Homo sapiens: one gene and its partners. The protein of the gene in region 3 interacts with the protein of the main gene of each other region in a pairwise test. Each region holds a gene or a part of one and is shown on either strand. Other genes may lie near its edges.

Evidence for each region. Proteins that work in one complex are often made in the same cells at the same time.
Region 1: the proteins of NOL4 (region 3) and PTCHD1 interact in a two-hybrid assay, tested with the Homo sapiens proteins (one study listed by BioGRID and IntAct).
Region 2: the proteins of NOL4 (region 3) and ZNF383 interact in binary tests that used the Homo sapiens proteins (3 or more experiments, as listed by UniProt).

What each region holds. Positions count from the first base shown.
Region 1 is NC_000023.11:23,330,909-23,337,848, reverse strand, and holds the start of PTCHD1 (patched domain-containing protein 1), read right to left. Parts: upstream 3,001-6,940; 5' UTR 2,974-3,000; coding exon 2,623-2,973; intron 1-2,622. UniProt on the Homo sapiens protein: Required for the development and function of the thalamic reticular nucleus (TRN), a part of the thalamus that is critical for thalamocortical transmission, generation of sleep rhythms, sensorimotor processing and attention. Can bind cholesterol in vitro.
Region 2 is NC_000019.10:37,213,357-37,221,213, reverse strand, and holds the start of ZNF383 (zinc finger protein 383), read right to left. Parts: upstream 3,001-7,857; 5' UTR 2,940-3,000; exon of another isoform or gene 1,724-2,939; intron 1,616-1,723; exon of another isoform or gene 1,465-1,615; intron 1-1,464.
Region 3 is NC_000018.10:34,221,904-34,229,642, reverse strand, and holds the start of NOL4 (nucleolar protein 4), read left to right. Parts: upstream 1-4,729; 5' UTR 4,730-6,389; coding exon 6,390-6,653; intron 6,654-7,172; exon of another isoform or gene 7,173-7,581; coding exon of another isoform or gene 7,582-7,623; intron 7,624-7,739.

The DNA of each region.
Region 1 (6,940 bases), on a different chromosome or scaffold from region 3:
GAGAGAATGGGTCTACTCTTCATGCTTGAAGCAACACCCTACACAGCCCTACAAGTCACCTCCTCAGTTCTGTACTGGGGTATGAAAAAGCCTCAGACCTGCTCATGCTCTGTCCACTTCACTTCATTTCAAATGTGACGCCATAAAACCGGCAGGGGGCAGGGACTGTTGGGTGTTGTGTAGTGTTAACTGTCAATGCTATCCTTGATGCCAGTAACGAAGCATCAGAATAACACTAGTAACAACAATAACAGTGATTCTTTCACTCCTGACACCTTTCCTAAAGGACAAGTCATCATGTCTCTAAATGAAAAAAATTAAAAAAAAAAAAGTGCTCACTCCCACACTTTACATTACCATGACTAATGAAGGTCCATCTTCCTGTCCCCTGGCTCCATATCTACCAAAAGTAGGGGCTGGATGCAGAAAGAAAAAATTAAACATATAATTTAAAATTGAAGACAGTTATTTCCTTGGTTCCGTAAGTCTGGATTTTTATAAGCTGTATGAACTCATTTGACCAGAGAGTCATCAGCTAGAAATAAGTTCGGACCACTGCTAGGCTTGGTTTTGATTTTACTCAGACACCTAGAAGATGAAAAACCATCCCAGTTCTTAAAACAATCCACTGATTTTTGACCATTGTCCTTTAAAGTTGCCCTTTAGATATGGAGGCAAACCAAGCCTCCGTCTCTCCAGTCTCAACCTTCTCCTATAGCACTGTTTTCTGTCCTGAACTGATCAAAATCAAATAGGGAAGAAGTAATCCAGTTGAAAAGAGATCTGATAATGCTTGTTGATGTCTCATTAACCTTGAGAGTGACTGTAACTGGTGACTGCCTGTCACAGTGGTGTGATGGTTTGTGGGTGGGGGGGGAAAGGCAATGGAAACGTCACCTTGAAAAAACACAAAAAGAGAAATATCATTTAGTAGATCATCAATCAAAAGACGGGGCATTTCCAACTGTCAGAACTGGTTAAATTACAGTTTCCTTATGCCCATGATGAATCTACTATGTGTTTTCGTGGGAAAGCTTTTGGAGCAGTATTTATCTGTGTCCCAAAATATAGTCACTAAAGTATTGAGAGAAAAAAGAAAACCACTTTGATGCTGGAAGTCTAATCATGAGAAAAACAAACATCTCGGGATTAATGTTATTAAGGTTCTGTGATGAGTAAATGTGTGATGTGTGCCATTAAAAATATCATGAGCCACTCCATGTGGGAAGATCCTAATTCCATTGAGCCCCTAGTCAGATTCCCCTCATTACTAATTGCTAATTGATAACATGTCAACAAACGGACATAGGAAAATAATGAAAATTAGCTTGTCTCTAGGGATAAACTATTACCTGTAGAGGAAAAGAAGAGGAAAGAGTTCCCCAGGTTTCCCGGCAGACTCCCCTTGGGATAAGTAGACTAGAAATCTAACCAGCCTCTAGTACCAGATCTGGACTAGAGACTCACACAAAACGATCACCTTCCATCCCTCTGCACCAGAGTCCCAGCTGGGACTGGTTCTTGTCTGCCCTCCCCAAAGGAGAACCTTAAGTAAACAAGCCCCACAGTCCCCATCAGGGATTCAGATGGAACATTCTCACCTATTTTTACTTTTCTCTCCCGAGGTCTCCACTTTTCCATCTCTAGTCCTCACTCCTCTGCTTTTCTTAGGAAGTTCCTGAAAGTTACCACCATTAACCTCACTTTCCACATCAAATTCCCACCTCAAGCTGATGGCACAACCGGTTTCTGCGAGTGTCACCCTCTAACCAGCTGCTCGGTTTCCTGTGCTCTTCTCGGGGTCACACAGCCTGGCTTCTGTTCTCACCCTTCGGGCTCTGCCCCTCACCCCCATGCTCAGATGCACCCAAATAAAAGTGGATTGATCGGTTCCCTCTTTTCCCAAAGTTTTGGCATTTCTTGAGGAGCTACTGTGAAAGACGAAGGAACTGCGAATTACAAACATAATTTCATACCCTAGAAGATAGAGATGGCTACCTCGCTCCGGAGAAGAGAGCAGCAGGGCAGCCCCCTGTCCTCGCCAGAGACCACACTTCTTTCTGGGTGGGTGGGAGGCATCTTCATCACCATCCCGCCTCACATTCTTTTGTCCTTTCCCAACATCCCACACCAACAACCGTTCCCCAAACACTCCGGGGGGCCAGAAAAAGGGAGAAACAAAACTGAGGACAGGGAGGGGTATCTCGGAATCCCCTCCAAGCATAGTATTTTGTTCTCAAGTAGTAGGACTTTCCAGAATGTCTTCTCTCGTTCTGCTCCTTGCTGGCCCAGTTACCCCAAAGCCTCCCCACCCCCAAGCCCACTGCGACCAAAACAAGCGCACCGACCACAGCACTGTGGCCGCCGCCGCCCCAACTGTTGCAGCAGCTGCGGGGTGGCGGTAGAGGCGACGCGGGCAGGGCCGGACCCGGACCCCGACGCTCCTTGTCCAGGAGGCTGGGAGGCTCCAGTCGGCCGCCCTGGGGCGCGCGGTGCAGGAGAGTCCCTGCGGCAGCTGCCTGGGCTAGGAGAGGTGGCGCTCTCAGCCGGGACCCCAGCGCAGAGCCAGCCCGACCGCGGCCGCGGCGCTGGCGGAGTCTGCCCGCACCCGTCCCCTCTCACCTTTAAGATCAGGTCGGTGTGATGCTGGTCCAGCATGTTGGCTTTCTGGAAGGAGGTGACGATGACCCGGCCGTAGCGCCCGGGGGTCTGCAGGTCCGAGTAGAGACGGTGCTTGGAGCGGTTGACCGGGAAGAGGCTGTTAACGAGGTTGCGCTCGATCTTGGCCAGGCTGTGCTGGGGCGCCAGCAGGTGCTCCACGCTCTCCTCGACCTGGTAGCGGCTGAAGCTGGCGCCGAGCAGGATGGAGATGAGCACCGGCGCCGAGGCGAAGAAGACAGGGTGACTGGCAATGAAGTGGCCGAGCCGGGAGAAACACGTCCTCAAGCCCCTGTGCAGAACCTGCCGCAGCATCCTAGAGCAGAGCGGGCGCGGGAGGAGGGCGAGGCGCACGCTCGGCGCGGGTTCGGGCGGCGGCGGCGGCGGCGGCGGCGGCGGCGGCAGCGGCGCCCGCGGCGGCGGCGACGGCGGCGGCGGCGAGACCCTGAGCTCTCCCGGAGCCGCGGCACCACCATCGGGGAGTCCCGCGCCGCGCCTCGGGAGGGTCCCCTCGAGCCGGAGACACGCCCTCCTGCCCGCGGCCGCGCCCTCCCGGAGAGCCCCCCAGCTTGGCGGCCTCTGCGCCGCCCCCACTCCGCCCTACCGCGTGCGCCCTCCCCACCCCCCGCGGCCTCCCCGCCAGGGGGGCTCCGCGCCGCGCGGCCGCGTCCCCTCTCAGCGCGGGCGGGGCCCGGGGCAGCCCCCGCGGCTCGTCATGACCCCACTCACCCGACCCCCAAGGCCAACGACGGGGTGGCGCGGGGAGCGGCGACGGCGCTATCGCCAGGAGACTCTGCGCGCCCGCCCAGGAACACGAGGACGGAGAATTCCAGGCTACACCCAGTCCCCTCCCCTCCCTTCGCTCCCCTCCCCCGGTCCGGCCCGCCAAGCTCGCTCTCCCCTTCTCTGCCCTCCTCCGGGAAGACCCAGAGATAAATAAAGAAATGGCCCCGATTTTCCAAACAAAAAGTAAAGAGTTCTCAGGAGTGGGGGGAGGGGGCGGGTGTCGGGCGGACCCGCTCAGAGCCGAGTCTCTCCAGAGGCTTAAAGGAGCAGGCTGAAGACTGCGTGCGTCCCGGCTCTCGCCAGGCTCAGGTGGTGGCGCGCACTGGCTGGTGCCGAGAGGGGGTGGGGAGCGAAGACGCTCGAACGTGGAAATCACGCCTCCTTCCAAATAAGAACCGTTTAAAATACCCCCAACACTGCAGCTTCGGCGGGACCACGGGGTCCGGGTGTGTGTCTGGAGCACGTCCACTCAAAAGGTATCCGTGGAGAATCTTTCTCTGTGGCTCTAATTTAGGGTCGCTCCAGAGTGGATTGGGGCTGGCCAGCTCTGTTGCACACCCCCCAACCTCCCACCCAGTCCTTTAGTAATAAAAGTGCTGATAATGACGGTCAGTCGATGGAACTGTCCGTCGCCTGGGCTCCCGGGCTCCCGAGCTCCGGGGCTCCCCGGCTCCCGGTTCTTCGCCCTGCCTTCTCTTCCTCCTCCTCTCTCTGTCGTCACCAGCAGGTCTGGGGGACCTGGTGCGGCGTGGCTGGCGCGGGCGCCCCTGCGGGCGTAGAGTGTTTGAGAAAGGCTGGCCAGGGAGTCAGTAGCATTAACCCCCTTCTCTGCCTCACTCCGCCCTCTCCTCCCCTACATGCGAAGGTGTGAGAGTGGAGGGAACCTTATCTCAGAGCAGGAGAGATACAGGTCTCCGAGCGTGTTGAGCCGCAGGGGGCGCGGGGGAGCCCGCGGGGCGCCGACGGCTTGGCAAAGTTGGGCGTGTGCGTGTGCGCGCCAGCCGTGAGCTAGCAGGCAGTCACCGTGGTTCCCCTCGCACTCCCCCTCCGGAGAATTCCCCGAGAAGGCGGGCGCCGGCTTCGGCCCCGGGATAGACCTGCGGCGGCGGCGGGAACGGCCACGCACAGGTACAATTTAGCGCGTTTCATTTCGCGCTCCAAGCTCCTGGGTCTGTCCACTGCAACGCAGACCGAGCGGGATCTCGGAGTCTGGGTCACTGAGGCGCTCTCTCCAGCCAGGGGGGTGGGATACAGGGCGCGGCGAGGGGTCCTCAGACTCCGCGCTCTGAGCGCTCAGCCTCCCCATCCCAAGCCTTTGGTCGCTACAGCTCAGTCTCCCAGTGCCAGGGGTCGAACGGGAGGCGGTGGCCCGCACTACGGAGCATAGACATGCATATTAATCAAAGCTGAAGGAAGACGAATAGGGACAGGAAGAGGAAGGGGAGTGGGGGGGGGGGAAGAAAGAGGAGAATGGGTAGGAGAATGCGCCTCGGGGAGGCATTTCCCTAACGTTCCCATTCCAGACTCCCCTACACCTAGCGGCCCTTCACTTCTCAAACTGAACTTGGGAACTTGCACGTTGGAAACAGCAAGTCGCGGTTTGGGAAATCCTCCTTATTTGATGATCTCCTCCCTTCCCCCATACCGGACTTCCTTCCTACCTTTCCTCAGCAACACCTGCTCCTGCTGCGCTGCCCACCCCGGGGGCGCACCTGCCCTGCTCTGCTTGTGCTCCCTAGATCCTTCCACCCATTTCTCGTCCACTTTCTGTGCTCATCTTCGTTATTCCCTACACTGCTCTGTTTCCAGAGGCTCCCCGCGACGCCTAAGTCCAGCAGCTTCCAGCTGACTCCCCTCCCCCAGTATCGCCGTCCCTGGGAGGGACACATTGGAAGGGGCTAGAAATTCCCCTGCCACACTCCACTCGTGCCGTTCCCCCAGCATCTTAATTTCTGCTCGTGGAGGTGCCGCTGCTCTGCAGCGCTTTGCTGATTCACCATGATCGCGGAGGGAAAAGCCTCATTGACTTGTGCCCCTGCAAGCGGCGAGGCGAGCGCGAGTGGCTGCGAGGGCACGCGCTTTGGGAAACCACCCACCATTGCGTAGCCGAGGTGCTAAATGACAGGGTGGATGCCCTGCGTGGCTCTCAGCCCGGGCAGACGGAAAGATGGAAGGGCGGGGAGGAGGGGTGGCGGTGGGAAATACTGCGAACCCAGCTCTTTGCGACTGAGCCAGCGGCAGCTAGTGGGTGGGCACTTCTCAGGAGGCCTAAAATCGGTCGCTGCACAGGGAATGAACAGAGCTGTTTCATGTGCCCCGATGCCAGCGCAGGGATAAAAGTAAGAGAAGGAAAACCAGCCGACAGGTCTGCTTAGGTGCCTTTAACATTTTGGCGAAGCTGTTTTCATTCTGAAGTCTTTGACCCTCCGATTGGCTCCCTTCCAACCTCGGTTCGCCCTCGTCCCTAGAATTTCCGGCCTTTTAATGTCAGCCCTCACAAGGGCTGAAGAACAGAGTGCCCTCCCTCAGTGCCTGGGCTGAATCTTAGAGCGGGAGAAACTGCATTGCTCAGCTGGCCAGGGCGAGAGTGTTGTCCTCCCACACAGAAAAGGCCTTTCCTTTGGGACCAAGGCATTTGTTTCTAGTCCTCCCAACTCTATTCCTAACTGTCCTTATGTATATTTGGAGGAGCTTCTAACCTGTATGTTTCAATTTGGAGACAGAACCAACTAAGTGTGGACCTTGGGCCACCTTTTACTGCAGGCAATCCCGTTAGTGTTGTCTAAATTGAATTGGAGCAGCAGAGAGAGTGAGAGTGAGGAGAGAGGAAAGAGAGAGGAGAGAGAGGGGGAAGAGAGAGGCGAAAGAGAGGGGAGAGAGAGAGGGGCGAGAGAGAGGGGCGAGAGAGAAAGAGAGCCCACACGTAAGAGTGCAGGAAGGGTGTTGCCTCCCCCCGATTTTTCTTCTCTTTTTGTAGAAGTTCTGGGGAGCATTGCCTCCACCAACGACTTGGGTTTGCATTTGGGCCAATGACTTTGTGATCAGAGCTTTCACCAGTACGTTAATAAATTGTTACCTTTTCTGATTTAAAATTAATACATATTAATTTTAGACAATTTGGAAAGTAAGAACAAGAAAAAGAAGGAAACAAAAACACCTGTATCGGTGTACTCACACTACCTTTCAACCTTTGTCGATCATTTATTGTACACATAGGCAATATAATGTAGAAGTTGAGGCTTTTGGTTCTGTAGCCACTGAGTTGAATCCTTGCTCCACTATTTATTAGCTAAAATGCAGTGGGTAACTTTACTTTTTTATGGCACAATTTTTCTCTTCTGAAAAATGGGAATAACAATAGTACCAACCCCATAGAATTGCTATGAGGATTAAATAGATTAACACACTTAAAACAGTGCCTGAAATATCACAGACATATAATAAATGATATTTGTTATAATCTTATTCTATACATAAGTGTGAAAAGAAAAGCATT
Region 2 (7,857 bases), on a different chromosome or scaffold from region 3:
GTTAGAATACAAGATGACTATAATGTTTATAAGCTGTCGGTAGGAATTTAATTTATAAAACTATATTGTAGATCAGTTCAGCATTATCTAGGAAATTTAAAGATGCAAAACATACTGTATGGCCCAGCAATTCCTTCATACACTTATATCCTGGAAAGGTATGCATATATGCTGGTATACTTGTAAAAACATTTTCACAGCAGCCCTGTCATACAGGAAATAACCAACGTCTGAACTGCAGCTATGTATAGCAGCGAGAGTGAGGCTAACAAATATAGTATTTTATAAGAAAGGCAAGACTCAAAACAACATCATACAGTACAATTTAATTTATATAGTGTTAAAAAGGCAAAACTAAACTATATTGTTTAGGGATAAGCAGATATGTGGTAAAAAACAAAACAAAACAAAACTTTTTTTAAAAAGTCAAGAAGAAAATAACGATTATCAAAGTCAGGATAAGTGTTGCCTAAAGAGGGAGGTAGGATAAGTTTATTCTGGGGAAAGGACTAGCGGGCTTTTCTGGACTGCTGAAGCAAGTTTTTGTTATGCTGAGGGTCTCTTTATAATTACTTCTTAAACTATACATCTATATTTTAACTATTTTTCTGTATTACGTAATATAAAGGGATTAAACAACAACAAAAAAAAAAACAAATATAGGCCAGGAGCAGTGGCTCACACCTGTAAACCCAGCACTTTGGGAGGCCTCACCTGAGGTCAGGAGTTCAAGAACAGCCTGGCCAACATAGTGAAACTCCATCTCTACAAAAATATAAAAATTAGCCAGGCATGATGGCAGGTGCCTGTAATCACAGCTACTCAGGAGGCTGGAGCGGGAGAATTGCTTGAACTCGGGAGGCGGGAGGTTGCAGTGAGCTGAGATCTAGCCATTGCACTCCAGCCTGGGTGCGCTGAGAACGCGCCTCTGCACTCCAGCCTGGGCAACAGAGCGAGACTCCGTCTCAAGAAAAAAAAAGAAAAGAAAAGAAAACCAAATATAAGAACCATACATAATTTTTAGTGAAAATACAAGATATGAAATGGTAAATGTCATAAGATTCCAATCTTGAAAACAATGTATATGTGCATAGGAAACTTACTAGAAGGAAATAGATCAAAATATTACTGGGTTATTTCTGGGTAGTAGATTTGCTGTTTGTAACTCCCTATTTTCTAAATTCTTTGGAATTGTGTGGGTGGGTGTGTGTGAGACAGAGGAGGGGAGAGTGTGTGTGTGTTTAAAAAAACAAAACTTTAGTACACTGGGAAAACTGTTCTATTTTCTAAATTAATAAGTGAACATTTTGTAGAAAGAAGTAACAGACTACTGGGATCTCTGAGTCCACTCCAAGGCTTCTCATCATTTTCTTGAATAGAAACTTGTAAGAACCAGGTCACTTGTTGACTCTATGTTAACCACGACTATCCAGAGAAGAGAAGCAAAAAGGAAACCCAATGCACCTTGTATTTGGTTTGGTCAACAGCCATTCTTCCTCTGGGTAACTCTCTTGACGAGAGCAGAGCTGAAGAAGAAAGGAATGATGAGATGCCAGGCCTTTCTTGTGGCCCAGACTGAGCAGATCAGAGGTCATTTTGGATCTACAGCTACTATCTATGGAGAGAAGAAGGGATGGGGGAGGTCAGAGAAGTGTAGGCGGCCCGGCGTGGTGGCTCACGCCTGTAATCCCAGCACTTTAGGAGGCCAAGGCAGGCGGATCACCTGAGGTGGGGAGGTCGAGACCAGCCTGACCAACACGGAGAAACCCCGTCTCTACTGAAAATACAAAATTAGCAGGGCGTGGTGACACACGCCTGTAATCCCAGCTACTAGGAAGGCTGAGGCAGGAGAATTGCTTGAACCGGGGAGGCGGAGGTTGCGGTGAGCCGAGATTGCGCCATTGCACTCCAGCCTGGGCAACAACAGCGAAACTCCGCCTTAAAACAAAACAAAACAAAAACAGAGAAGTGTAGGCTGTCATGAGCATTCTTGGTATCAGAGGGGTGAGGTCTCTCCTCTCGAGAATCTGTCCTGACCTCACAGGGAGAGCTGGAGTCACAAAGACAGTCACAAGCACCCCCTACCCAATGCTGCAGTCACCCAGCCACCATGGGGACCCACATAGACCTCCACAGGCACGCCTCACCCAAACAATAACACTATATATGGTCACACAATCATTGTCCCACATCTACCTTGAGGATAAGTTACACTAGCATATTTACAGACCCCTCAAACATAGCACCATTCAGAACCAGAGTGCTACAGATAGTCACAATACCACACGCACTACTGAGCCACACAAAGTTACAGTTCCCCCCTCCCCAGGACCCCTATTGAGCACTACACACAATCACACATTCAAAATAACACAATGACCACTAGGACACACATATCACCCCGGCACGATTACACGCACTTTCCAACCGCAGACACAGTGCTACATAAAGTTACATGGTCACACTCTCACATTCTCACGTTACTGGGTTATTTCTGGGTAGTAGATTTACTCAGTAAGGCATCCAGTACACTTAAGTGCTGCTAACAGTCATACAAACACAATTACACACACCCCTCAGACTAACACACAGTCACAGCCTCATCAGATTCTCTCCACACAAACACCCTCCACAAATGTCACGCAAAGTTACACAGCCACACACAATCACAGTCCCAACACGGGACACAGTCATACCTACACATACAGCCTTACATTGTTACAATTACACAACTACAACGAGGATATACAATCACACCCGCGCACACAGAGAGGCACAGTCACATAAGGTCACACTCACACACGGAAGCCCACGCCTCGCGCCCGCCTCCCCACCACCCCCTCTATCAGCCCGACCAACTCATACATGCCCGACACACTCATACATGCCCAACACTCCAGACCAGCCTGGTCAGTCCCTTCAAACTCCCATGCACGTACCTGCGGGCCCCAGCCGAGCCTGCAAGACCCAGGCCGCTCACCGCGCACTTCCCCTACCCTTGAGGCGGAGGGTCCAGCAGGCAAATGAAGGGGCTGCCCTGGACTCGCGGGGGCCTCTGGGAAATACAGTCCGGAGTAGGACCGCGCCGAGAAGATGGCGCCTGTTTTTTCGGGTTCTTGCAGCTGCACAGCTCGGGGACATCCCTGCTCCGCACTCCGAACCGCTACCCCGCGTCTCCGTGATCCAGACACAGGCTCAGAGTGAAACTGCCGTAGGACGCTGGCCCTGCACGCTGAAGACAATCTTCCTCCATGGTACCGGCCAACCCCAGGGAGTTCCCTGAGAAACAGGAAAAGGTCGCCAGCTTCGGGCCAGATGTTGACTAGAGCCGCAAGGATTTTTGGGAACTGTAGTCTAGAGCAGGAAGGGGTGAGGCGCTGGGGCAAGTGGAAGGAGGTCGCTTAAATGACTTCCTGCCCCAAGCCGACTCAGTGCAGAACGCACCCAGGACCCCGGACTGTACTAGGCGTTATAACGCTCTCTGAGAATGCTAGACTGACTAAATCGTCATTTTTGCCTTCATCCGTGGATAAGCCACATACTGTATGACTGCATTTATAGGAAATATTTAAAATAGTCAAATCTACGGAAAAGGAGTAAGTTAGAGTTTTTTAGGACTAGCAGGATTAGGGGGAACTGTGAGTGATTGGTAATAGCTAAAGGGTTCATTTTTGGGGTAATGCAAAGCTTCTTGAATTAGATAATGATGTTTGCACAACTCTGAATACACTAAAAGTGACTGAATGGTACACCATAAACGAGCTAATGTTATAGTTTGTAAATTATATTTGTGTGCATGTTTTTTAAAAATCAACTTTACTGAAGAATAATTTAGATACAATAAAATGCACTCATTTTAAGTGAACTGTTCGGTAAGCTTCAACGCATGTCTAAACCCTTGTCACCACCATCGTAATCAGGATATAGAATATTTTTTAAAATTAAAAAATTTTTAAGCATTTTAGTTAAATTTTTGTGGGTACATAGTAGTTGTATATGGGGTACATGAGATGTTTTGATACAGGCATGCAATGCGTAAGAATCATATCATGTAAAATAGGGTGTCTATCCCCTCAAGCATTTATCCTTAGTGTTACTGGATATAGAATTTTTTTTTTTTTTTTTTTGAGTTGGAGTCTAGCTGTCACCCAGGCTGGACTGCAGTGGCGAGATCTCGGCTCACTGCAAGTTCCGCCTCCCGGGTTCAAGCGATTCTCCTGCCTCAGCCTTCCGAGTAGCTGGTATTACAGGTGCCCGCCACCATGCCTGGCTAATTTTTGTATTTTTAGTAGAGACAGGGTTCGAGCTCACAGGCTGGTCTCGAACTCCCGACCTCGAACTTCTGACTTCGTGATCCGCTCGCCTCGGCCTCCCAAAGTGCTGAGATTACAAGCGTGAGCCACCGCGCCCGGCGGATATAGAATATTTTTATTCACCGCCCTCTGCCCCCCACATTGTTAAGTCAATCCCCACCTCCCAAACCCCACATCAGGCATCTATTGACTATTCTAAGGAATGAGCAGTAGTATCAAATTATGTTTTTAATTTGCATTTCCTGATGTCAATGAACTTAGCATACTTTCATATACTTATTTGCCATTCTTTTATCTTCTTTTGTGACATCTATTGAAAATATTCGGCTGGGCGCAGTGGCTCACGCCTGTAATCCTAGCACTTTGGGAGGCTGAGGCGGGCAGATCACCTGAGGTTGGGAGTTCGAGACCACCCTGACCAACGTGGAGAAACACCGTCTCTACTAAAAATACGAAATTGGCCAGGCGTGGCGGTGCATGCCTGTAATCCCTGCAGGAGAATCACTTGAACCCGGGAGGCAGAGGTTGCTGTGAGCTGAGATCACACTGTTGCACTCCAGCTAGGGCAACAAGAGCAAAACTGCATCTCAAAAAATAATAATAAATAAATAAATAAATAAAATTTTCTTATTTTAAAATTGGTTATTATTGAGTTGTAACAATTCTTTATATGTTTGGGTAAAAGTCCTTTGCCAAATATACATATTGCAAATTGCAAATATTCTCTCCCTGCCTGGGGCTTACCTTCTCAGTTTTTTTTTTTTTTTTTTTTTGAGACAGGGTCTTGCTCTGTTGCCTAGTCTGGAGTGCAGTGGTGTTAACATAGCTCACCACAGCCTTGACCTCCTGGGTTTAGTCGATCCTCCTGAGTAGCTGGGACTGCAGGTGTGCACCACCACCCCCAACTAATTTTCTTGTGTTTTGTGGAGATGGGGTCTCACTGTGTTATTACAGGTGTGAGTCACTGTGCCCAGCCCTCAGTTTCTTCATGATGTCTTTCAAAAAGCAGTTTTTACTTCTGATGAAATCCAATTTCTCATCTTTAAAATGTGCTTCATGCTTTCTGGTCTTTCTAACAATCTTTGACTCCTCTAGTGTTGTGAAGAATTTCTCCTATGTTTTATTCTAAAGGTTGTATAGTTTTAGTTTTTATTTTTGGTCTATCATCCACTTGAAGTTAGTTTTTGTGTATGTGAGGTAATGTTCAAAGTTATTATTTTCCAGATGGAAATTCAGTTGTTCTAACATCACATGTTAACAAAACTATCATTTTCCTCTTGAATGACCTCAACATCTAAAGTAGGCAGGATAATGTTCCCCCCAAAATACCCACATGCTAGTTCCTGGGACTTGTGAATATGCTATGTTACATGGCAAGTGGAATTAAATTAACAGGTAGAATTAAAGTTGCTAATCGGCTGACCTTAACATAGGGGAATTATACTGGATTGTCCAGTTAGACCCAATGTAATCACATGGGGTCTGAAATGAGGAAGAAGGCATAAAGTCAGTGTTGGAATTGTGTGCTGTGAGAAACACACGACCAGCCATTATTGGGTGTAAAGATGAAAGGAGCCCATGAGCTGAGGAATGCAGGCAGCTTCTCCAACTTGGAAAATGAAAAAAAACAAATTCTCCAGAGCCTCCAGAAAGGAATGCAGCTTGCAAACTTTTGATTTTAGAGCAGAAAAAACTCATTTCTTTTTTTTAATTTTTAATTTATTTTTTTAATTTTTATTTATTTATTTTGAGATGGGGTCTCCCTCTGTTGCCCAAGCTGGAGTGCAGTGGTGGGATCTCGGCTCACTGCAACGTCTGCCTCCTGGGTTCAAGTGATTCTCCTGCCTCAGCCTCCCTAGTAGCTGAGATTACAGGCACCCACCACCATGCCCGGCTAATTTTTCTTTCCTTTTTTTTTTTTTTTTTTTTTTTTTTTTTAAGTAGAGACAGGGTTTCATCATGTTGGCTAGGCTGGTCTTGAACTCCTGACCTCAAGTGATCTGCCTGCCTTGGCCTCCCGAAGTACTGGGATTACAGGTGTGAGCCACTGCACCCAGCATTTTTTTTTTTTTTTTTTTTTTTTAGAGACAAGGTCTTGCTCTGTCTCCCAGGCTGGAATGCAGAGGTATGATCACAGCTCACTGCAGCCTCATACTCCTGGACTTAAGCATCCTTCCGCCTAGGCCTTCTGAGTAGCTGGGACTATTGGTGTACACCACCACACCTGGCTAATTGAAAAAAAAATTTATAGAGAGAGGGTTTAGTTATGTTGCCCAGTCTAGTTTCAAACTCCGGGCCTCAAGTAATCCTCCCACCGAGGCCTCCCAAAGTGCTGGGATTACAGGCATGAGCCACCACAACAGCTGTGTCATCCCAACCCCTCTCTGGGCTTGATCACATAAAGAAGGCTTGCATTCCTCAGATAAAAGCCATTTATTTTCTTTTTCAACACTATGCGGAGTGAGATAAGCCAGACCAAAAGGACAAATATTGTATGAATCCACTTATATGAGGTGCCTAGAATAGGTGTATTCATAGAGACAGAAAGTAGAATTGAAGTTACATGAAGTTATATGAGGTACATGATAAAGCCTCTATACTTAAAACAGTGTGCTATTTGTGTGTGGTTAGAGAGACAGACAAAGGGAGGAGGATGGGAAATGGAGAAATAAACATCCATGGCCGGGCGCGGTGGCTCACGCCCAGCCCTTTGGGTGGCCGAGGTGGGTGGATCACCTGAGGTCAGGAGTTCGAGACCAGCCTGGCCAACATGATGAAACCCCATCTCTACTAAAAATACAAAAAATAAGCTGGGCATGGTGGCATGCGCCTGTCATCCCAGCTACTCAGGAGGCTGAGGCAGGAGAATTGCTTGAACCTGGGAGGCGGAGGTTGCAGTGAGCCGAGATTAAGCCACTGCACTCCAGCCTGGGCAACAGGAGCAAAACTCCGTCTCAAAAAAAGAAAGAAAGAAAGAAATTAACATCCCGGCCAGGCACGGTGGCTCACACCTGTAATCCCAGCACTTTGGGAGGCCAAGGCGGGTGAATCATGAGGTGAAGAGATCGAGACCATCCTGGCCAACATGATGAAACCCCGTCTCTACTAAAAATACAAAAATTAGCTGGGTGTGGTGGCACGCGCCTGTAGTCCCAGCTACTCGGGAGGCTGAGGCAGGAGAATCGCTTGAACCTGGGAGGCAGAGGTTGCAGTGAGCTGAGATTGTGCCACTGCGCTACAGCCTGGTGACAGAGTGAGACTTCATCTCAAAAAAAAAAGAAATTAACATCCACATAGATGCTTAGTATTTGATAAAGGTAGCAGCTCAAATCACCACAGTCACATCATAAAGTTTTATGCAGCCCATACACACACAGCAGAAAAAAAAAAAAACGAAGCTCTCTACGGAATGACATTAACTCTGGAATATATAAAAAATGGAAAGTATAGAACAGTGTAACATATAGTTCGTCTAAAAAAGAAAAGGAAATTAGATTAGATATAAGCATTTGTTTATATTCACTAAAAAAAGAAAAGATAGGAA
Region 3 (7,739 bases):
ACGGGATTATTAATAGACTTTTAACCCTCTGAATGCATAATAACGTTCAGAACCTCAGCTTTCAAAGTAGCAAGTACCATGCTCCATAATCTCTAATCTAGCTAAAAGGCTCAAATTCTTTTATGAACTTAACTCAGTAGACAAGTCTCTAGTCAACCCCTTCAATGGGAAATGTGATCATAGGACATCCTAAAATTTGATTCCTATTTTAGCGTGCCTCCAGGTCCTGATCTAATCCAGAATAGGTCTAACCAAAGCTTTCACAGCTTCACTTTTAAGTTTTAAATGATTTTAAGTCCATGTAAATTTGGAAATTACTAACAGTTTAGGTCTAGTCAAGGATTCATCCAAACTGCTTTGCTATTTTTCTCAGGTTTTTCCCAATACCAGTATTATATCAATAGAAGCCAACTTCTGCTGCTCAGTACATGACATTCTATTTTAGTCATAAGGTATTAGTATATACAAACTCAATATCAAAAGATGGGGGCTTTCCCTTTTTGTAGGAAATGTGGACAAAGGTGATGTCATTCATTCCTATGGCTTTAAATTCCCTGTATTTATATCTCCAATCCAGACTTTTCTCTGTAGTTCAAGCTTCTATATTCAATTCCTACATGAACAACTCTCCTGGTATTTCAAATTTAACTTCTCTGAAATTAAATTCTTTCTTCCTGCCTCTCCACCCCAACTTGCTTCTGCTCCTCCCTCAGCCTCCAACTCCCAATCTGTTCCTCCCCCAAACATTTCTCTGTAAGTCAATGGCTTCACTAGCCTCACTACTAAAGCCAGAAACCATGTAGTCGTCTTTGATTCAATCGTTTCTCTCATCTGATACATGCAGTCCATCAGTGTATTAGTTCACTAGGGCTGCTATAACAAACTACCATAGGCTGGGTGGCTTATAAACAACAGGAATTTATTTCTCACAGGTCTGGAGGCTGGAAAGTCCAAGATTAAGATGCTGGCAGATGTGATGTCTAGTGAGACTCCTCTTCATAGATGGCCATCTTTTCAGCGTCCTCACATGGAGGAAGTGGCAGAGGAGCTCTGTGAGGCCTCTTTCATGAAGGCACCAATTCCATTCATGACCAGCTCTCCTTTCATTACCTAATCAGCTCCCAAAGGTGCCACTTCCTAATACCATCACCTTGGGGGTTAGGATTTCAACATATGGATTGTGGGGTGGGGGCAGGGGGGTGGAGGAGATACACATTCAGGAAGCTCTATTCTTTCTTTAAACTGTATCTTCAACCCATCACTTCTCTCCCTCTACCTCCTCTGTTAATACTCTAATCTATCGCCGTAATAGTTCATCTAAGCTACTACTTCAACTATCACCATTTTTTCTAGCTGGTCTTCCTGCTTTCATGCTTGTCCCTTTCCAATCCTTTCTCCTCAAAGTGGCCAGTGACACTAATAAAAATGCATATCATATCATATAATTCTCCTGCCTGAGATATCTTACTGGTTTTCCACTGGACCAATAAAATATAAGCACTTATCAATAAAATGTAAGCAATGCCCTACAAGATCTGGCTGCAGAAGTCTACTCAGATCTCACGTTCTACCTTTCTCTTTCAAGCTCCAGTTGCCTTGGCCTTCTTTCTATTCCTCAAACATGCCAAGAGTTCTTTTACGTTAGGACCTTTGCGCTTTGCCTATAGTTCACCTTCCTGGCTTCACATAATTGACTCCTTTGAATCTTCAGGTCTCATGATAAATGTTACCTACTCAGAAAGATCTTCCCTAAGCTCATCAAGTCTCTCTACCTTGTCACTGTTTTCTCTTATGCTGCTATTTTTCCCCCTCCCAGCACTTACATAAAGCTCTAATTATTTATTTCTTGCTTTGTTGTCTGCTGTCCTTAGAAGAATTTATGTTCCATGAGATGGGAACCATGCATATACATCTGTCTTGCTGAGGACGTTAACCCTAGAACCTGTGAGAGTAACTGAAGCTTGGTTAATATTTGTTTAATAAAAACCACAATTATTTGAAGGAATGAAAGCTTGTTTATTCTTTGAACATGGATTTTCTGATTACAGATTCTATGTTGTTTGTACTCTAACATTTTGCTGATGAACACATAGTGTTGTGTAAATATTTGTGATTGATAATAAAGTGCAAGATTTTCTGGATTTTTAAAATGTCATTTACAAACTGACCATGAAGTTGGAAGAAATTTTACTTCTATAACAAAAATCATATTGATGATAGCCCACGTTTTGGATTATTTTAAATTAAAATATAAGTTTCACATACCTTTTTGCCTTCCTCTTCCTCTCTTTTCTTCCTCTGCCTGCCAGGCAGACAGGACCCCTGGGCCCAGATTGGGGATTGGCATTCAGAAGGGGTGAAGAAAAACATTTCGGAGAGATATGCTTTGTAGCCAGGCAATTCTGAGGAAAGTGTCCTGGGAACATACCAGGTTAAATCCCAGGCAGCCTGTTCACATGAACCATATAGCTGAGGAAGCAGCTCAGGATGACCCTGAGATGGGGCTGGTCAGACCTGACTCTAGAGAAGTTCAAAGAAGGAAAATTAGTCCAGAGTAAGTTGCTGAAGCAGATTTTAGATTTTTGTTAGGTGCCTACCTTCCTAGGTGGACAAGATATGGTTGAAGGTGTTGGCTCAGCCAGCACAACTAATAATGGGTGCAAGTACAGAGCATATTACACTTTGGGTTCCACTGAAAACAAGAGAATCTGCAGGGCTCTGAGACTTAGGACCCTTGAAATCTTTGAACCCTGTATTCCTTTCCTCCAATGCAAACAGTCTTTCAGTAGTTAATCATTTACCTTTTCTTCTTAAAAAGAATGTATTTCATATAATCTATTTCATTTTGTGGGGTTTTTGTGCTTGTATATCAAATCTAGTGAATACAAGTGGGGGTTGATGACATATTTATCTTCTGGGAGTTCTGTATGTCTAGGGTGTTCTAGTTGCTATGCATTAGGGTGTCAAGTATAGTTATAAATACAATGAACACATGTGTGTGTGGTAAAGCCCTGTCATTTCCTTAAGACGGGGGACCAACTTCAACCAAACACTACCCAGCAAAAGCCAACAAGAATGGACAAAGATTATGCCTACCTTCTTCCTTCCTTCCCTTACTCTTGTTCTCCTTCTTTCATTAATTTATTAACTCAATTTATTAAGCACTTACTGTGCACATTGTTCATTGCACAAAACAAGAAAAAAGACATAAACTTTCAAGGGTTTTCCAATTAAGATTTTATTTGACCAACAAAACATACTCATATGAAAATATAAATAAGGTAAAAGGAGCAGTGTAGTCATTATGATCTAAAACAATATTTTTCAAATTGTAGGTTGCCAGTCATTCTTTGCTGGGTCATAAAATAAATTTTTTTGGTTGGGACTATACTTTACCAAATAATAATAACAAAATCAACAGGAGAGAAAAAGGCAAATATCAGTGTATATTGCAGGTAATAAAATAGATGTTTTCATAAAATTTTTGCAGAACAAATGTATGTATGCACTACATGTCAATGTAAAGTGTATGGCTTACTACAAGACAGGGCTAAAAAATGTTTGAAAGACACAATACAGATGATTATAGAAGAAAGTTAATATTAAGTTGAATGATTAAGGAAGGTTTTTGGAGGCTGAAAGTACATAAATAAAGCTTAGAGGGGATGGGATGCCTTTTTAGATGAAAAGCTGCATAAAATAGTTCTATAATTGTGAACTATAACCATATGAGAAAGTGAATTCTATAGAACCAGCTTATTCTTGAATGACTACCCCAGGACCAATTATCTTTCCAGAAACTTCCAGGAAACACATGACCAATATCTAACTAAATTGAGCTCTGATGCCACAAAGGGAAACTTAACAGAGTTGCTCCTGTGAAGTATACCCCACTAGAAGGGTGGTTCAGGATATCTTCTGTCCAATTGCGTGTTTCAAATATTTATGTATTTAAGATATTAAGATTTTTTTAATGTGAAATATCTAAAGATTCACCTCAATAAATTGAAAGTGATATTTTTCCCCTGAGTCCCTTGTATTAGATTCACTTGTGACTTCATTGGACAGTGTCTTCTCTGAGCTCTATGGTCTAATACGTATTGAACAAAAATTCAAGGACTCAACAACTGATTTATTTTAGCATTTCTTTTTAATACAAAAGAAGGAAATAAAAGAATAAAAGCAGTCGGGGTGGCCTCTGGAGAAGGGGAGCTGTTGTTGCAGGAATCTTGCAAGTTAATGAGAATTCACCCGGGACTCAAGAGGGATGGAGAGAGGGGGAGAAAGGAGATGGGGGAATGGGGTGGGGGGATAAAAACTCTTCCTTTGCAGCTGGCCCTTTCCCTCATTTGTTGCTCCAATAAGCAGTAATTAGGTCCTGAGCTAATGGTGTCAGCTGATCTGCTGTTTTTAGGCTAGACCCAGAGGAATCTCCATGGAAACCCTGCTGGAGTCGTCCCCCCACCTGGATGCTGCGTGCTCCTTTCTGCCACCTGGCTGCCGCCGGGCCCGCTGCTACCTCCTTCTGCCTCTAACCTGCAGCCTGCAGCATGCGCACTGCCCCCGGGATCCCTAAATGGGACAATTCTGCCCGTGACGTCAGCGCCCAGCCGTCTCCACAGAAACTTTTGTCCCATTGGCCAATCAGAGAGCTTGGAAGGGGCCGGGGAGGGTGGGGGAAGGAGAGGGGAGTGGGAGGGGTGGGGGTGAGGGGAGAGGCGAGAGGTTTAGCGTGTGGAGCTGCCTGCGCTCCGCCCGGGCTGTCAGTCCCGGCTCCAGCCGCCGCGAGACCTTCCCGGAGACGCGCGCACACACAGCGCACCCCCTGCACACCGCACACCCTCGCTCCCTTGCTCACACACACGCACACACTCAGCCTGGCCGAGCAGGAGCCACTGACCATTTTGCAAGTGTCAGGACCAGCTACAGCGCGGTGGGCGCAAACATCCCGCTTTCCCTTTCCGGGATTTAGTCTGGGAGACGACGACGAGGGAAGAAGGTGGGCTCGGACGCAGCCCAGGCGCCGGGCACTGGTCGGGCCGTTTTCCTGGCAGAGCCGCTCCCCGGGACGGGCGCGGGCCTCGGGTGAGAGTAGAATAAAGAGGAGCGGCCGCAGCCGCCGCGCGAGGAGGATGGGAACTCCCCTATTTCCAGCTCTGGAAACAAATGGATGGAAGTCCTGAATGGAGCAACTGCTGACTTCATCTGCTTGGAAAAATAGTCCAGAGGAACTCATATTTGGCTACTCAGAGCAGTGGAGGGGGTGTCCATGACGTGGCAGGGGGAAAATAGACAACTGAAACCTCCCGTGTGAACTGCAAACTGTGACCAAGCAAGGGGAAAATGATCTTTCTGTATATATTTTAATTTCGTGCAAAGGTTTTCAAGCATCTGTATCCTAAACTTACTTCTATGTCTTGTTCAGCAGAAACCAGAGGAGTCCTGTCTGGGGGTCCCATCATTATTCGGGATACCCGCCGCCAGCGGCCTGCCTTCGGTTACCCACATCCCCCTGGAACGGATATCTGTTTGGGGCACTACAATCTATCCTGTAGAACTATGGCCAAATCTCCATCAATGCTTTGCTAATTTCTGGGACTTAACTCGTAGAATCTACATACAGGGCTGGAATTTATTCAAAATGCATCTGAAGAAATGACATTTTAAACCGTTTTAAAAAATATCTTGATAAAAAATTCTGTAAAACAGAATTTGATAGGTTTAAAAACATGACAGGTAAGAACTTTCTCTTTCTAGTCCCTTAACACCCGTCGTGGGGAAGGTCAAAGCAGGACCCAGGAGGAAGGAGAGATCCGGGACCCGTGTGCCCTTCGGGGCTCAAAGGCGCTGGGCGGGCGGCTGCTTTCGGGAGAGGCGCAGCCCTCACTCCTGGACCACGGGGCCAGTGGCTGGGGAAGCTTCTGGGGCGCGCGCGGGGAGGCGGCGCTGCGCTCCACCTGCCCAGCCCCGGACGCAGCCCGGGGGCGAGGCGTCTAGGGACCACCCCAATTCAATATTGGGATTTTTAATAAACCAAGGAATGGGATTTTAATTATTGAAAACCCAGCTCCTCTGGGCCAGAATGGTGTTGGGATGGTCCTGGTCACAAAATATTAAAGAGACCGACCGCTAAGGGAACAGGAAAAACGTCCGAGACAGCCGTTGCAATTACGAATGGACCAGACTTGGTAGCACGGGGCATTGATTGCTGGTGCCCAACCGGACCCTCCTCCCCTCTTCCCATCCCTTCCCCCACCCAAAGCAGGCTCCCGCTGCGGCCGGGACCTCGCATCCCTGCAACGTGGCCGGGGCTGCATTTTTCATGAGCCTAGGGTGAACAGGTGCGAAGTGCGCTGGGAGCATCCGGCCAGCGGCCGAGCGCGGGGAACATGGAGAGCGAGCGCGACATGTACCGCCAGTTCCAGGACTGGTGCCTCAGGACTTACGGGGACTCAGGCAAGACCAAGACGGTGACCCGTAAAAAATACGAACGGATCGTCCAGCTCCTCAATGGCTCCGAGTCGAGCTCCACGGACAACGCCAAATTTAAATTCTGGGTCAAATCGAAGGGCTTCCAGCTGGGCCAGCCGGACGAGGTCCGCGGGGGAGGCGGCGGCGCCAAGCAAGTGCTCTACGTGCCTGTCAAGACCACGGTGAGTGACTCGCCTTCCTCTGTTATTTGTCTGCCGGAGCAGCCCGGCGGGGAGGGAGGAAGGAGAGAGGCGGGAGAGAGGGGGAGCCGTGAGCCGCCGTTGGCTCGTGTGCCCCCTACCTTCCTCAACCCCCTCCCCAAGTCGTCCCCACTCGCATTAGCCAGGCGCGTTTTCCCCACTGTACAGTCTTTGTGGTCCTTTATTTTAAAGCGGCAGCGCACCTCCAGAGCTGGCCTCCCTCCCCGCCTCGGGTTCCCGGACCGGCTGCAGGAGCTTCCTTCCCCGGGTCGGGCGGCGGCGTCTGGCGTCCTCGGGCTGGGCCATTGTCCCATGTCCTTCTCTGGGCGCCTGGCGCGTGTCCCACCGCCGCCACCGCGCCTAAAGGCCAGGCTGGAAGCCCGGCCGCACGCTCTGAGAGCAGACGAGTCTGATCGATAGTCTACAGTGTCTCCTTATTGGCATAAAGCCCGAATGTAGCGCTAGCGGTGGATGTGGGGTTTTCCCCAGGACACTGTCAGGTTTTATCGTTAGATCGCTGCCCGGGAGGCACGGGGCAGCCCGAATGCCTCGATCACTCCCAGAGATCGTTGCCGCGACTGTTGAGATTGTAGATAAGGTCCTGGAGATTCCTCCTCCCCGCCCCCCCATTCCCTTCCTCACTTCCCTCTTCCACAAATAAAGCCGCAGCTAGAAGATGAACAACAAAGAAAGATGGGTTTAGGCGCTATCGAATGGTGTGTGTATTTGTTCCTTTTTCTGGGGTGGCTCTAGTCTCATGGCCACAAAGCTCTAGCCCAGGCGCCGCGAGGCACTGGCATTGAGAGCCCAATGCATCTCAGCCTCACGCTGCAGAAGCCAGTGGGGCTGGGGAGCCGCAGCAGCGTCGATTTTCTTCACAAGAAGATGGGAACTGTGGGCTACAAGTAGGATGGCAGATCTGATGCAGGAGACCTTTCTGCATCATGCCACGGTGGGTACTCGCCTGGAGTAGGGATGGGGGAGGCTATCTGGCATCCTTTGTATTTTTGCCTCGCTTTGGGGTTTCTTGAGCATTTCTTCCTTTCCCCCCTCCTGTACTGGCAACTG